Linked DNA regions of Homo sapiens: region 1 is linked to region 2. A link means that fine-mapping ties the variant in region 2 to the expression of a gene that starts in the linked region. Tissue or cell type: esophagus mucosa. Region 2 holds a variant in brackets; the other region holds the start of a gene. All regions are shown on one strand. Distances are from middle to middle.

Evidence for each region. PIP is the estimated chance that this variant, and not a neighbour inherited with it, causes the effect.
Region 1: ARHGAP44 starts here. The variant in region 2 is fine-mapped to the expression of ARHGAP44 in esophagus mucosa (GTEx, PIP 0.91).

The regions. Positions count from the first base shown.
Region 1 is chr17:12,784,705-12,792,800 of GRCh38, forward strand. It overlaps ARHGAP44 (Rho GTPase activating protein 44), which reads left to right and starts at 4,794. Exons shown (of 21, transcript NM_014859.6): 1 at 4,794-5,187. The coding sequence starts at 5,135. ARHGAP44-AS1 (ARHGAP44 and MYOCD antisense RNA 1) reads right to left here and starts at 5,580. Exons shown (of 2, transcript NR_104607.1): 1 at 5,439-5,580. RefSeq lists a silencer at 4,721-5,070.
Region 2 is chr17:12,978,021-12,986,107 of GRCh38, forward strand. ARHGAP44 (Rho GTPase activating protein 44) reads left to right here. Exons shown (of 21, transcript NM_014859.6): 19 at 2,038-2,213; 20 at 6,511-6,888. Among named protein-coding and RNA genes, the nearest start is that of ELAC2, 36 kb to the right of the region's middle. The variant C/T (reference allele first, on the strand shown) is at 4,738.

The DNA.
Region 1 (8,096 bases), 190 kb before region 2:
ACCTCAGCCTCCCGAGTAGCTGGGATTACAGATGCCCACCACCACACCTAGCTAAATTTTGTATTTCTAGTAGAGACGGGTTTTCACCACATTGGCCAGGCTGGTTTCGAACTCCTGGCCTCAGGTGATCCACCTGCCTTGGCCTCCCAAAGTGCTGGAATTACAGGCGTGAGCCACCACGCCTGGCTGTGTAAGTACTTTCTATGATGTTTTTGCAACAACAAAATCACCTAATAATGTATTTCTCAGAACATATCCCTGTCATTAAGTGACACATGAGGTTATTCTGAATTCTGTTCTGTAGACCAGCCCTGTCCAATGGAGCTTTCTATGATGATGAAAATGTTATTTTACATTCTCTACTACGGCAGCCACTAGCCACATGTAGTTATTGGGCACTTGAAATGAAAAACTGAAATTTTTGTTTTATTTAACCTAATTTAAAATAATATTTAAGTAACCACATGTAGCTAATGATTCCCATGTTGGCCAGGTGGCTCTAGTGAATGCTTGCTCTCAGAGTAGAGGTTAAAACCATTCTAATTCAGGGGATTCTAAATGGAGTATCAGATTTCTAAGGGAACATATCTCAGACAAATAGTACTACAATGTTGCTGAAGCAAGTAAGAAGCCCATATATTGTTGACCAAAGCAAGTGACAAGGTCAAAGTCAAGGTCAACAGGAGCAGGGAAGTGTAATCTTCCCATAGGTCAAAGCTAGGTATATAAGACATAGAAATTTCTTTCTTCTTTTCTCCTCTTCTTTCCCCTTCCCACCGTCCTTCCTCACCTCCTCCTCTTCTTTTGCAAATACATTTAAATTTTATATTAAGTCTATTCTTCTAGGTGGCAAAAATTAAGTTTTAGGCAATTCCATCTCCATCTTGGCCAATGCTGCCTCCTCCTCCTGATCATCATCTTTGATCTCAATAGCTTTCACATCCAGCTGTTTCAGGTACATTTGTGTATCCTCACAGCACACATGCAGACACCAAATCATCGCACATGGCTTGGGTGCAGGGAGCTCTGGGGCTGCCACTAGCCTGTGGTATGGGTACCTGAGGCACTTCATATAGATGTCTTACTGGTCCTCTGTCTTAGAAGGCAGAGGATCTCCACAAGCTTGGCCATGCCTAGCCTTCACTCCAGGAGTGGTGTACAGCTTCTCCACTGTGCTCAGATGCCCCAAAACGATATGATATATCTGTCTTCAGTCTGCCTGCCCCCAACCTAATTGTTGACCATGGGTAAAAGCAAGGTGCATGCTACTTTCTCAGAGAAACCCACTGTAGCAGTCAGCTTAGACTCAATTATGTTACAGCAACAAACCTCTGATTTAAAACAGCAAAGATACCTTTTGCTGGGGGGCCACATCACTGTTCCACAGCATCCCCTAACTGGTTCATTGGCAGCGTTAAGAAGAAGAGGGCAGGATCACAAAATGACTCCTGAAACTTCTGCCCTCAGAAGAAGCGTAAAAGTCACCTCTGTGCATATTCATTGTTCAAAGAAAATCACATGACCGATCTTTACCTCAACAGTAAGGTAAAATAGAGTCCTTCCCATAGGGATTGGCAGTGAAATTTTTTGGGCATTAATAGTATCTGCACAAGCATCATCTACTTTTCTTCTCTCTTTCTCTCCCGCTTTCCAGTCCCCATCACCATCTTCAACATCTCACAGCCTGTAGGTTCTTTATTTAGACTAAGCAGGATGATATATGCTTTATAATCTACTATTTCTGACATAGACTATTAAAGCTCCAAAGCCTGTATTCTGGAAACTCAAAACTCTTTTCTTGAAGAACTCTATTCTGTCACATGTGTTTCTGAAGCTCTTGTTTCTGCACTATTATCCCTTCCCCGGGGTAGAAAGCAGAAAATGTACTAGCTGCTTCCTGAGTGAAGGAAGCATTCAAAGGAAGACAGAAAATCTGTGGAGAAGCCACCAGTTAATAAAACATTATTGGACCACACTCTGGCAGGGGAGGCTGCCAAAGGGATTTCCCTTTGGAACGGAAAAATCTTGGGATTGAAGGCAGGGGCTGGCATGATATTGGAGTTGGCTACCAGAGTTCTTGAGGATTAGTGCTAACAAGTAGAACTTTCTGAGAGGATAGTAATGTTCTTTATCTGTGCTGTCCAGTACAGTAGCCTTTAGCCACATGTGGCTCTTAAGTACTTCGAATGTGACTTGGGTGACCGAGGAACTAAATTCTGTTTTTATTTTATTTTATTTTTTATTAAACTTTAAGTTCTGGGATATGTGTGCAGAACGTGCAGGTTTGTTACATAGGTATACACGTGCCATGGTGGTTTGCTGCACCCATTAACCCATCATCTATATTAGGTATTTCTCCTAATGCTATCCCTCCCCTTGCCCCTACCCGCGACAGGCCCCGGTGTGTGATGTTCCCCTCCCTGTGTCCATGTTTTCTCTTTGTTCAACCCCCACTTATGAGTGAGAACATGCGGTGTTTGGTTTTCTGTTCCTGTGTTAGTTTGCTGAGAATGATGGTTTACAGCTTCATCCATGTCCCTGCAAAGGACATGAACTCATCCTTTTTAATGGCTGTATCCATGTCCCTGCAAAGGACATGAACTCACCCTTTTTTATGGCTGCATGGTATTCCATGGTGAAAATGTGCCACATTTTTTTTTATCCAGTCTATCATTGATGGGCATTAGGATTGTTTCCAAGTCTTTGCTATTGTGAACAGTGCCACAATAAACATACATGTGCATGTGTCTTTATAGCAGAATGATTTATAATCCTTTGGGTATATACCCAGTAATGGGATTGCTGGGTCAAATGGTATTTCTAGTTCTAGATCCTTGAAGAATTGCCACACTGTTTTCCACAATGGTTGAAGTAATTTACAATCCCACCAACAGTGCAAAAGTGAGGAACCAAATTTTGAACTTTAATTAACTTAAATTGCAACAACCACATGTGGCTAGGGGATACTATATTCAACAGTGCAGTTCTGGAAGTTACCAGAGATAGTGTTGCTAAAAGTCATACAGTGACCTTAATGTCTTACCGTTTATACACATAAAAAGCATGTTGTACTTTGCTTTTTAAAAAATCTCAAAATGGAAATAATTTCACTTAATATAGACATCATATTGACATTATAGGTACAGCATAGTTGGTTAAAAGCAAATAATGCCTTCATTTATTCACTGGCTGGAGTTGTCTGACCTAATAAGCAGAGGCTAAATTCACAATTAATTAAAGATTTCATGTTCATTCAGCCAAGACATGCCTCAAACCACTTTTTGTTCAGCTAGCCAGCAAGATACTTAGAGCCATATTTAGGACATCTTGCAACTATAATCAACATATGCAAAATATCCTATTTCAAAGAAGATCCTTCCTTTATAAGATTAGTAATTCTGTTGTATGAACAGGATTTTTCTCTATTATGCTAAATATAATCATTTTGTAGTAAATGAATACGGCAATGTACTATATGAAAATTTATATGTAATTTGATTATTGTAATTTAACAAATAGTTCTCTTACTGAAGATCAGGCAGCATATTTTTCTATTTAGGGATGAGGAAACAGAGGTTTGGAGAGGTTAAGCTGTTTTCCTAAGGTTATATAACAGGTATGTGGAATTCTGATGCAGGAACTCCTATCTGTTTAATCCAAAGTGCCTCACACCCAACAATACTGCTTTTACTTGATATATAATGATAAAACCTTGATATATAATGATAAAACCTAACTGCAATCACCAATCTTTTTCTTTTTTTTCTTTTCTTTTTTTTTTGTTTTTTGAGATGGAGTCTAGCTCTGTCACCCAGGCTGGCGTGCAATGGCGCGATCTCCACTCACTGCAACCTCCACCTCCCAGGTTCAAGCTATTCTCCTGCCTCAGCCTCCCAAGTAGCTGGGATTACAGGTGCCCGCCACCACGCCCAGCTAATTTTTGTATTTTTAGCAGAGACAGGGTTTCACTGTGTTGGCCAGGCTGGTGTCGAACTCCTGACCTCGTGATCCACCCTCCTTGGCCTCCCAAACTGTTGGGATTACAAGCGTGAGCCACCGCGCCCGGCTCACCTATCTTTTTCTAAGGATAGAGACCAAAGAAGCCACAACCCCTTCCAAGGAGTCAACTGACGCCAATGGGATGCTGTGGTGCAGGACACTTGGGGGGTGCTGCAGCTGATGCCCCTTGGTCTCCTGGTGGTGGAAGGGAAATGGGACTAGATACGAGATTGGCATCTAAGCCATACAAAAAAGCTGTCTCAGACAGGTTGGGCCAGTAAGCACAACGTCACTTATCTATATTGGCTTCTGGTTACCTAATGGGTTTGGTTTGGTAAAAATTAAGAATCAGACTTCTGGGATGCAAGCTATGCCTGTTCAAAATCTGCTGTCAGCCCCTGTGTTTCAAGCTTAACCTTGAACCTCATCATTAATCAGGTGACCTTAGACCGTTTTATCAGCCACGTATCTGCTAGCATAAATCTCCCTTCTGTGAATTCAGAACACTGATACCTCACATTCACTAAAAATACAATGAGAGACAGATGCTCACTTTCTTTATTTGCTGTTGTATTCTTGGTCCCACTTTGCCATTTTTAAAACAGGAAAACGTTTCCCTTACTCGAACGCTAAAGTGCAAAGCTGCTGGTGACGCTGCCTTCTCCCACCTCCGCACTCCACTGTCCTTGCAAACTTTGGACAGAGGAAAGGTGGGCACGGGGCGCGAAACTACAAGTCCCGGCATGCACGGCGTTCTCCGCACAGGCGCACGGGGACCGCCGGGCCAGCCGGCCAGCCAGCCTGCGGAGACTCCCGGGTCCCCGCGCCGGACTGGGACTGGGAGCAGGCAGCCCGGGCGGAGCGGGCCGGTGCCGAGGACGGCCCCAGGCATTGCTCTGCCCCGGGCATTGCGCGGCGCGCGTGAGGGGGATGCGGCAGGAGGCGGCGCGGCGGGAGGAGTAGGCGGCGGCGCCCTCGGGAGGGAGCTGCGCGCGGGCCAGACGGCGCCCGGAGGCTCCGCAGTGCCGCCGCCGTCGCCCGGGAGGCTCCGCGCGGGAGCCATGTAACCCTGCGGCGGGCTCCGGGCTGCTCCGTCCTTCCCCAGCTCCCGGGCTAGCGCGGCAGCGGGGCCACGATGAAGAAGCAGTTCAATCGCATGCGCCAGCTGGCCAACCAGACGGTGGGCAGGTAGGTCACCCGCGGGCACCGCTGTCGGTGCGCGCCCGCGAGGCTGCATCCGCAGGGGCGCGCAGGTGATGGAGCCCGCCCAGCCTCCAGTCCTCCTTGCCTCAGTCCTTTCCCCTGCACCAGCTCCCTCCAGGCGCCGCTCGCAGGCGCGACCCCTCCTCCCTAACTTCCCAGACCCCGGAGCTCTTCTCACTCGCCGCCTTCTGCTCCGGGCTCCGGTTGCCAAGCGCAAAGTGTGACGCATCCTTTACCTGCGTCCCCGGCTGCCCCTTCGCTTCGTCCTCCCTGCCTTTCCCCGGGACTCCCTTCTCCCTCTGGCCGCCTGTCTTCCTGGAAACAGGTGTTTGCTCTGATTGTGCTGGAGGCAGCCGAACCGCAGTCGGTCTCCGGAGATCTCTTCCCTCCCCTCCCCTGCGCCGAGTTCAGGGCTGCTCCCGGGTCCAGGGAAAGTGCTGGGCCTGGTCGGCCTGCCCCTCCCGCCGTGTTTGTTTTCAGGGACTATGACTGTACGAGATTCTGGATCACTTTCCTGGCCGGGTTTCTTAAGGCGTTTGGTGGGGGGAAAGGGTGAGGGGTGGGAGAGGAAGGAAGGTGCTGGTGGAATGGCGTTGCTGCCTGCTTGATGTTAGGACTGATTTCAGTGGAGGGAGGGAGGCTGCAAAAAGGAGGCCCAAGTCCTCGGGAAGATGAGATAAGCAGAGAATCGCAGCCAGGTAGGGGAGGGGGACAGAGGCCCCACAGTCAGAAGAGTCAGGCCCCGGGAAGCTGCAAGACCCCGCCTGCTGCCATCACGGTGAAAATGGGCTACATCTGGACTCCAGGAGCGGCTCTGCAGGGTGCCAACATCTATTAAGGTTACATAAAAATCCTGGTGGGTCGCTCCCAAGACTAGACATTCTTTGAACACAGGAGCGTTAGGTAGAAGGGATTTTTCCTGGAACCCCTACTCCTGGGGAGGGATTTCCGTTGCTGCTGTGGCAAAGGAATTCAGGTGTGCTGTTCTAAAGCAATCAGAAAGCAAAGAATCCAGCCTTGGGTGCAGTTCAAATGCAAGCTCAACACCTCGAGGGCTCTCCACTAGGTTTACGGAGAAACCGAATACCTTTCTTGGGTGGGAAGTGGAGCCTGAACTGGCATCTGGTAGGATGGGGGTGGGGACATCCCTGGGGAATAGGGGACATCTGAACTCCCGTCTGAGCATACTGCCCTAGTTACAGTGGGCATTTGAGGGCAGGGGATGCGGTGGCTTCTTATGCTTCCAGGGACTCCAGATGGTTTCCAAGTAACAATGTCTAAAATTGACTTGGATTCATTTTTCCTTCCCAAACACATGTGCTTTAACATGAGGGGGAATTTATGAATAGCAGAGTCAGATTAGCCCAGATTTCTGGCATGGTATTGCCACAGATATAGCCTCACGTGGACTGCCTTTTGATGTGTTGGATGCCGAGATAGTGTTTCCTGGTATTCGTTGTTTAGCAGATGACAGTCAAGCCGACCCGTCTTTAATGTCTTGGCTTCTTCGTCACCCTGCAGGCGGGCATTGGCCATCACCTCAGACCAGCCAAGTGACCAGGAGGCCCCTGACACTAGACTTGGGTTGCTGGTTTCTCTTGGTCTTGGGGTTTCAGTGCCGTGCTAGAATCTAAATGTTCAGAACATGTTTATGCCTCCTCCCTGGCCTTCCTGAAACACAATTCTTCTTTTTTTCAGGACCTGTTTTTAAATGGGGGAGATTTTTGCGCCATGGCATCATATCTTATTTTTCAGCCTCATCCATGGGGGGAATGCAAAATGGTGAGGGGAGGTTGGATTTCAGAAAAAGTGGTCTTAGGTATTGAGAGCACGTTCTTGGAAGTCCAAGCAGCTGGTTACCAAGAGGTTCTTTCCTCTTCTTTGTTGGGGCTCTGGTGGATGTTGGCCTATGGATGAATTCTGCCTTTCTCCGTTGGTAGCCATTGTGTTGTGCACTGGGCCAGGTGAGGGCCAGCCTGTATCGCTTTTGATGAAATCCAGAGCAAGCCTTTTAAAGCAAAAACCAGTTCATGTTACCTTGCTGCTGAAAAGCTTCCAGCGACATCTGATTGTGCTTAGCATCTCATATCTTGCCAGGGTTCTACAGGACCATCCTTGGTTGGCCTTTTTTCTTAACTCTTTTTCTCCCCATTCTCATCTCTTCACATTCATGGAGCTCTAGCCGTGTGGCCTTTCTTGCCCCAAACACACTGAGCTCATATCCACCTTGAGGATTTCGTTTTTACTGTTTTCCCATTTTTTTTGTTTTTTGCTTGGCTGAGAATGTGCTCCTTCCAAGTAGCTTTTTCTCATCATTTCAGTCTTGGTTCCAAGGCCTTCAAGAGGCCCTTCCTCCCCTATTTACCTCCAGCTCATCATTTTTTCATTTCTGGACAGCACTCATCACTGATTGAAACGCTTTTATTTTTTATTTTCTTGTCTGTCTGCTTCCAGCAGAATCTATTGATTGCTGTTGTATGCCTGTGTAGATAGTGCAATGCCGTTTAGACTACTGACTCTCAATCGGTGTTGATTGCCGAGATTAAAACGGTTTACCCCAGGGTCCGTGAGGGTCAGCGAGAGGGGCAGTATCTCCTCTATTATTGAGAATGTTTTGGGTCATGATCCTATGAGTATTGGAGTAAAAGAGCCCGCGGTTGCCTGTTAATTTCTTAAATCAGTAGAAGCACATAGGATTGGAATTTGGACTTTAGGTGTGCAGTTATAAAGCACTTGATTTTTATCCTTATATTTTTCTAAAGTTTTCCTCTTTCCGAGGGAGGACTAAGAGGACTTGAAAGTCCTTCCTCATGGCTCGCCTTCCCTAAGTTGCAGGTTCTGGAGTTCTGAATATAAAACTTAAAGTCATTTTAACAATGTAGGAGTTGCCCTAC
Region 2 (8,087 bases):
AGCAAGACTCCATCTCAAAAAAAAAAAAAAAAAAAAGTGTGTTTCGTGGCAGGGAACAGAAGGAAGAGCTCATTCCTAGATTCCTTGGATAGATGTGTGTCCAAAGGAAGGAAGAAGAGTCTACCCACCCACAAGAAGCAATTTTTTAGTTTGCTGATTATGAGATGTTTTTGATTGGTTGACTGGCCTTCCTCTTGATAGTGGCAGAGATAGATGGAAGGGTAGGTAGATATTTGGCATTGATGCCCGGGTACCTGGTAACCTGCAGCCTGAGGTCCTTGTCCAGCCTGAGTGAGGCAAGGGTTTTCTGTTTCTGTTTTTCATGAACAGAATAGAGAAAGGAATTACTGCTCTTTTGGTTCCTCTGAATAAAATGGTTTTTGCCCCTTGGGGAACTAGGTATAGTGTGTAAGACTCATCCCAAGTGGGAGAGAATGTGCCTCCACATTGAATGTGATCTTCCTTTTATTTCTTTGCATGAGGAAAATGACCTGTGCTTTGACGCTATGGGCTTCCCCGGCCCAGCTCCCTGCTCCCAGTCTTTCTCACCTCAGTGGACGAGAGTGCTCTATTCCTATTGGAATTTTCTCCAAATTAACACCTGGAGTTTCTAGATCAGTTTAGGAAAGAAATAGGCTGTGCCTGCCTTTTTTTTTTCTTTTCTTTTTTCTTTTTTCTTTTTTTTTTTGACAGGGTCTCCCTCTGTTGCCCAGGCTGGAGTGCAGTGGCACGATCTCAGCTCACTGCAACCTCCATCTCCCGGGTTCAAGCCATCCTCCTGCCTCAGCCTCCCGAGTGGCTGGGATTACAGGCACATGTCACCACGCCCAGCTAATTTTTGCATTTTTAGTGTAGACAGGGTTTCGCCATGTTGGCCAGGCTGGTCTCAAACTCCTGACCTCAGGTGACCTGCCTGCCTCGGCCTCCCAAAGTGCTGGATTACAGGCATGAGCCACCATGCCCGGCCCAGGTTGTGCCTGCTCTTGTGGGATAGAAACAGCCATTGCAGAGGATTTGGGTTCCCAGACTCTTCATGCCCCACCTGTGGGCATCAGAATCCAGGTAGGTTCTAGCACGGATGACAGATGGCTCCCAACTGTGGGGCATCTCCCCTGATTCACTAAAGGCCACCTGGAGAATTTTCTTGGAAAGGATTGAGAACACTGTGGGGGAAGTGTGGAGATCAATTAGTAATATCTACCATCAGCGTATCAGGATGACAAATCCCTGGTTTGTGGTGTAGAGTGAGGTGTCTTCTAATACGTGCTTCATCCTCAGAAGAAGGCTGAGGAACAGCCTTGCAGTAACGATGAATCCTCTTTAGGAAACCTGGTGACCTAGGGTGCCTCATTGTCAATTCCAGAGGTCAGAGGCCAGAGCCCTCACTGCCATCGACCTTCACCTCTCTTGAAGCCTGGGACTGGGACTCAAACTGGCCCACATTTAAGGGCATGGCCTGGATTTCTGTCCACCCTAGCTTCTGCTGGAATGGGTATTGAGTTTGAGGATGAGTCCTAGAATCCCTCCTGCCTGGGGGGTGGCTGGAGGCTCAGGGCAAACAGCTGGAGAGCTGGGCCACAAGCTTGGCAGCAGGAGTCCGTGTCATCAGCACTCGTTGGGCACAGTGGCCCTGAGAAGTCCTCTTGGCTACAGTAGGAAAAGCACTTTGGTGTTCCAGTTTGAGAATGTTCTAGAATTCCTGGGTTGATGGCAGGATACGGTAGAGGTGCTCAGGCCCCTGCCCTCACATTGCTCACGGTCTCCTTGAAGAGAGGAGGGCAGAGGCATGAAAAGGGCATTGGCAGTGAGTGCCAAGTGCCACAGAGATGGGGGCAGAACCCAGGCCATCAGAGCTCCAGGAAGGGCAGTCACCCCAAGGGGCACCTGCGAAGGTTTTAGGAAGGGGCCAAGACAGACCAGAGCTGGGACAGACTTGCACGGGGCCCAGAAGGACACACAGGGTGGCCATCGGCAAGGCTGGTGCTGCCGCTCACTGAGTTCAGGGCTTTTCTTTTGTCTCATGTGCTTTCGTTTCAGCACAACAAAAAGCAAGGAACTTTCTCCAGGCTCTGCACAGAAAGGAAGTCCAGGCTCCAGCCAGGGCACAGCCTGTGCAGGGACTCAACCAGGGGCTCAACCTGGAGCTCAGCCGGGCGCCAGCCCCAGCCCCAGCCAGCCGCCTGCAGACCAGAGTCCTCACACCCTCCGGAAAGGTATGGCCCTGCTTCCCTTCTCCTTGGTCTCAGGCCGGAGGTGGCTGTGACATTCCCTGAAGGCTCGTTTTCCTCTATGAACTTGGATATTGAGAAACTGTGTGGTTTAGTGACTAATTCCCATCTGGACATTAGAGCTTTGGAAGTTAAAAGGGATCCTTTCTCTATTATTCCTCAGTTTACTTATTTGACAGGTGGGCTCATTAGGGGCGTATAGAGGCCAGTGCTTCCCATACACCAAATGATGCCACCAGGGCAAAATTCATTGTCCACAATGATGTGTGTTTTCCAGAGACCTGCCGGGCCCTACCTCTGTCATTTGAAAAGCTGTATAGGGTCATCTACAGGAGTCTCCTTCCCCGCAGGGCAGCCTGGCACAGCTGCCTACCCCTAGATCACTCGTACAGGGTGACAGGAGGGAGTCAGGATAGCTTCTGTAGTACCTGAGTCTCAGCTCTGAATGGCCCAAGAATGGCCACACTGACCAGTTATTATCTCTTCAGATAATCACTTCCAAAAGCTAAAGGTATGCTCCATGTGACATTTCATAAATGGGGAGCTGTACTGAGCGTACTTATCTGAACCTTTTTGGTTTGTTCTTACCTGTGTCATCTCTTTGCAGAGTCTTTCACTCGTCTAAAATAATACATCATCCTGTGTGTTCTAATTTCAGACCACTCGCACTTCTAGGAGCGGCTTTTAACTCCTGGATTTGTCGAATAGGGCCCGGATTTAGCTCATCCACATGTGCCTTCATGACAGGCCCTTTTCCAGCCCCCTTAGTTCCGATCTGCAGTGGCAGTTTCATTCTCTTTGTCTGCCCTCACCAAGCCCGTGGATCTTATTCGATCCCTACTCATTCCTTTTGCATTCTACACAAATTTATTAAATCCTGCTATGTACAGAGCTCTGTGCTTTCCAGAGAGGAAGGCAATGATAAGGCAAAGGTGTTGGCACTGTGCTGGGAGACACTCAGGGTACTGTAAGGACACCTGGGAGCATGCTTTCTCGACTCAGGAGTTAGGACAGGTGGCCCAGCGGAAACGACATCGTGAAGGTTGAATAGGAGTTGGGCCAAAGTGCCGGCGTGAGATTTCAGCATCTCAGAGCATTTCTCCAGCACCAATGGTTTCTCCTTGGTCTAGATGCCATATTCTTGGTTATGTCTTTTTTTTTTTTTTGAGACGAAGTCTTGCTCTTGTGCCCCAGGCTGGAGTGCAATGGCACAATCTCGGCTCACTGCAACCTCCGCCTCCTGGGTTCAAGCGATTCTCCTGCCTCAGCCTCCCAAGTAGCTGAAATTAAAGGCGTCTACCACCACACCTGGCTAATTTTTGTATTTTCAGTAGAGATGGGGTTTCACCATGTTGGCCAGACTGGTCTCGAACTCCTGACCTCAGGTGATCTGCCCACCTCGGCCTCCCAAAGTGCTGGGATTACAGGCGTGAGCCACTGTACCCGGCCAGGCACCTCTTTGTTTTAGAGTCCTTTAACTGGCCGGACGCAGTGGCCCCTGCCTGTAATCCTAGCACTTTGGGAGGCTGAGATGGGCAGATTGCCTGAGCTCAGGAGTTTGAGACCAGACTGGACAACGTGGTGAAACCCGTCTCTACTAAAATATAAAAAAATCAGCTGGGCGTGGTGGTGGGCGTCTGTAATCCCAGCTACTCAGGAGGCTGAGGCACAAGAATTGCTTGAACCTGGGAGGTGGAGGTTGCACTGAGCCAAGATCGTGCCACTGCCTTCCAGCTTGGGCAGCAAAGCAAAACTCTGTCTCCAAAAAAAAAGAGTCCTTTAACTTTCCCCACAGCACTACAATACAGGGGTGATGGCTAAGTCATTGTCTCGTCCAGTGGGAGAGCCAGGGCTCCTGTAGCAGCCACCCAGCCTCCTAATGCCAGTGACAGGTTGACCCTTTTCGTTTTTGCAGCACATTGGACCTAGGCAGCCAGTGTAGCCTAGAGTGACTCAGGTCCCTTTCCCAAGTGACCTTCAATAGCTCAGACCCATCTTTTGAAAGGTATACATTTCTTCTCTACTCCCCATCATGCCCACAGATGGCACACTTAGCAGGTCTTTTTTTTTAATTTTTTTTTTTTTGACACCTCAGTCTTCTGACAGCGTGCCGACAATTTCACATCCTATTCCTGTCACCACCGGAAGTGGTAAATGTCATCACAGACATGGTGATGCATCCTCTGTCCCCCAGCTCCTTCGTGAGAAGGCATGTGCAAGCATTGATACCTAGGGTCTCCACCTGCTTCTCATCCAGGGGTACCCCTGCGTCTGTCACCCATGACCACGTGGCTGCCATGAGCTGCAGTAGCAGCTGCTGGAAGCACTTCCCCTGTACTCAGGAAGTAGAGTTGAAAAGTGAAATTGGAAAGTTAAGTGGTTTTATTATGTCATGATTATGTGGTACTTGACATGTATGATCTCATTTAATTATTACACTGCTGCAGAGAAAATCTTTTTCCTCCAATTGCATAGAAGATGTTTGAATAAGTTGACCCAGGGAATACAG[C/T]GGGTAAGTGGCAGGATAGAAATTTGAGCCCACGTTGGTAGGATTCTGAAGGGCATGTCCTTCTGTCCACACTGCAGACTGACACACCCAGAGAATACATGAGGTGTCCTCCTAACAGACCTTGTTCCTTGGAGGGAGTGGGGGTGGGGTGGGGAGAAGGAAGAGCTTCTGACCTCTCCCTTAGGACTTACAAGATAATTCCTTCTAGAATCAGACCCACACACATGGCTGGGCACCGTGGCTCACGCCTGTAATCCAAGCACTTTGGAAGGCCAAGGCAGGTGGATCATGAAGTCAGGAGATCGAGACCATCCTGGCTAACACAGTGAAACCCCATCTCTACCAAAAATACAAAAAATTAGCTGGGCATGGTGGCAGGCGCCTGTAGTCCCAGCTACTTGGGAGGCTGAGGCAGGAGAATGGCATGAACCCGGGAGGCGGAGTTTGCAGAGAGCCGAGATCGCGCCACTGCACTCCAGCCTGGGTGACAGAGCGAGACTCCATCTTAAAAAAAAAAAAAAAAAAAAAAGGAATCAGACCCACACACAGCCAGTCCTCACTTAAGCCTAACAGGTTAGTGATCACTCTCTCAAGATATTTGCCCATCAAGTATCTCCTGGACGTTTGAATTTATTGTCTTTACCAATTCATTTTCAATTAAAGGTATAATGGATTTGTCATCCTATAGGGAGATTGGGAAAAGGATAATGAAGGTAAGGCAAAGGAGGTCAGGGCAATAATGTACTTTGAAAAATGCGGTTGATTGGCCGGGCGTGGTGGCTTACGCCTGTAATCCCAGCACTTTGGGAGGCCGAGGCGGGCGGATCACCTGAGGTTGGGAGTTCAAGACCAGCCTGACCAACATGGAGAAACCCTGTGTCTACTAAAAACACAAAATTAGCCAGGCGTGGTGGTGGGCGCCTGTAATCCCAGCTACTCAGGAGGCTGAGGCAGGAGAATTGCTTGAACCTGGGAGGCGGAGGTTGTGGTGAGCGGCGATCGCGCCATTGCACTCCAGCCTGGGCGACAAAAGCAAAGCTCCGTCTCCAAAAGAAAAAAAAACAACAAAAAAACCCCAGAAAAACAACGAAAAATGCAGTCGATCCATACATGCTTAGACCAGCGGGTACAATTCTAGGAAGAAACAAGAATGAGAAGAAAGCCTCAGCAGCAGGGATGCAGGATTGAGGCACAGCATATAAAGTAATGAAGGAACAGGGGTTCTGTGGCCGGAGGATTTGCTCACATATCACTGTTAGGGGAGCCAGAAGCCACTGGACAGGTTCAGCCAAAAGTCAGTTTTCTATCCCGAGGACCTGCCCCTGTGTCAGGGCTCCTCTGTCCATTACAGCAAATTGAACTGGAGTCATCCTCTGCTGGACCCTGCCCCACTGACTCACTCTTGCTCAGAGAGTAGCAGCGATGCCTCTCACCACTGGGAAGGCAGCCCACTCCTGTGGATGGGAAATTTGTTCTCTAGTTTGGCTGGGTGTGCGTGTGTAGATCAGGGCAGAAATCCAGAAAAGAGGAGGAAAAATTAGTTAACAGATGGGAAGATAGGAAAACTTGCAGTTCTCGGTTAATTTTTAAAAATTGTATTGGCTGCTGTCAATGTGGCAAGAGGCCGGGGGGCAGGGCAGGGAGGTGTGGGTGGGTGGCGAGGGGCAGGAGGTGGGGACAGCTTTGAACGCTGAAGGGTGTGTGAACAGGCCCCACAAGTGGCTTCATTCAACAACTTTGTGTTTTGTTGTTGTGTTGTGTTTTCTCTTTCAGTTTCAAAGAAGCTGGCACCGATTCCACCCAAGGTCCCCTTTGGCCAGCCGGGGGCTATGGCAGACCAGTCCGCTGGCCAGCCGTCCCCAGTCAGCCTGTCCCCCACCCCGCCCAGCACCCCGTCACCCTATGGACTGAGCTACCCTCAGGGGTACTCCTTGGCCTCGGGCCAGCTCTCCCCAGCTGCAGCTCCTCCCCTGGCCTCTCCTTCTGTCTTTACAAGCACTTTGAGCAAATCGCGGCCCACTCCTAAGCCGCGACAGAGACCTACTCTGCCGCCTCCTCAGCCTCCCACAGTAAACCTCTCGGCCTCTAGTCCACAGTCCACGGAGGCCCCCATGCTAGATGGCATGTCCCCTGGGGAAAGCATGTCTACAGGTAACCAAGCCACAGGCTCCCTCACTTTTTTTTATGAACTTTAGTGAAATGTGCCTAGGGGAGGGATTGCTAGTGTTACTGCCAGTGAACACATTCCTGCGTGCTTTGGGATGACTGGGCTGGCACCAGGGGTAGCTCATAAGATCTCCTTAGAAGCCCACCAATGGAAAGCAACCCTGGAATCCATGTGTCCCACACAGGGGCTTCTTATGGGATCTCTCTCGGTCTAAGCCCACCAGCCTGGGGTTCTGTTTTTGCTCTTATTATCGGGGGTTGAAGACACTGAGTCATTTGGAGTGGGGCCTCAGGAGAGGCTGGAAGCTGGTTATGATCACAAAACAGCATCAAAACTCAGGTATTTCCTGGATAGAGCCCAAGCAACTGACAGGTATAAATGCTTATCTGGAGAACAGGGGCTAAGAACCCAAGATGTTTTTTACTATTACTAAAATAAGCCTTGCTAGAAAAATATACTTCCAGATAGATATTTAGAGAGGGGTGAATTTCAGAAAACATGCATGTCTCCATTCTCCTCCACCAGACTCCCCTCCCTGGCCAATTCCCTGAGGAGCTAATTGGACAAACCCACAACGACTTAATTTAGTTTGGGCTTAAATTTAGAAACAAAGACGGAGCTCTCTTCCCCCAGAAAAATCTGTAAGCACAAAATCGCAAACACACACCACGTTTAGCCAAAACCATTCATTGGCTGGAAGGAACGGGATGTTTTTGGAACATCTCCCCAGACACTTCAACCACATAAGATTATAAAGTCAGGGGCCTATTTGTGGTGGCTGCTAAAGTCATTTGAGCATTTTCCTTGTTCAGGGAGACAGGCACAGGGTTGAGCTGTGTCTTGGGCTAGAGCCAACCCACTTAGTAAAGTGCAGTAGCATGGCGGTGAGCTGGAGCATATGTGTACCTAGTGTTGTCCCAAGTAGCAGAAGGTGAGGCAGCTTGGGTTGGAACACACACACCACATACACACACACCCACTCACCCATTTCAAAGAACAGTGCTGTCCTAGGATGCACTGGGACTTTTTGTGATAATGCACTTTTCCCTCCACGTCCTTCTCCAAAAGAGTGATTTATTTCTTCCGTGATTAGACGGAAGCAGTGACCCTGTGGGGTTCAGCTCCGTGCTGCCTTTGAAAAGGCTAGTCCAATTTGCAAGTGTTTGTACTGGGTCAGATTTAA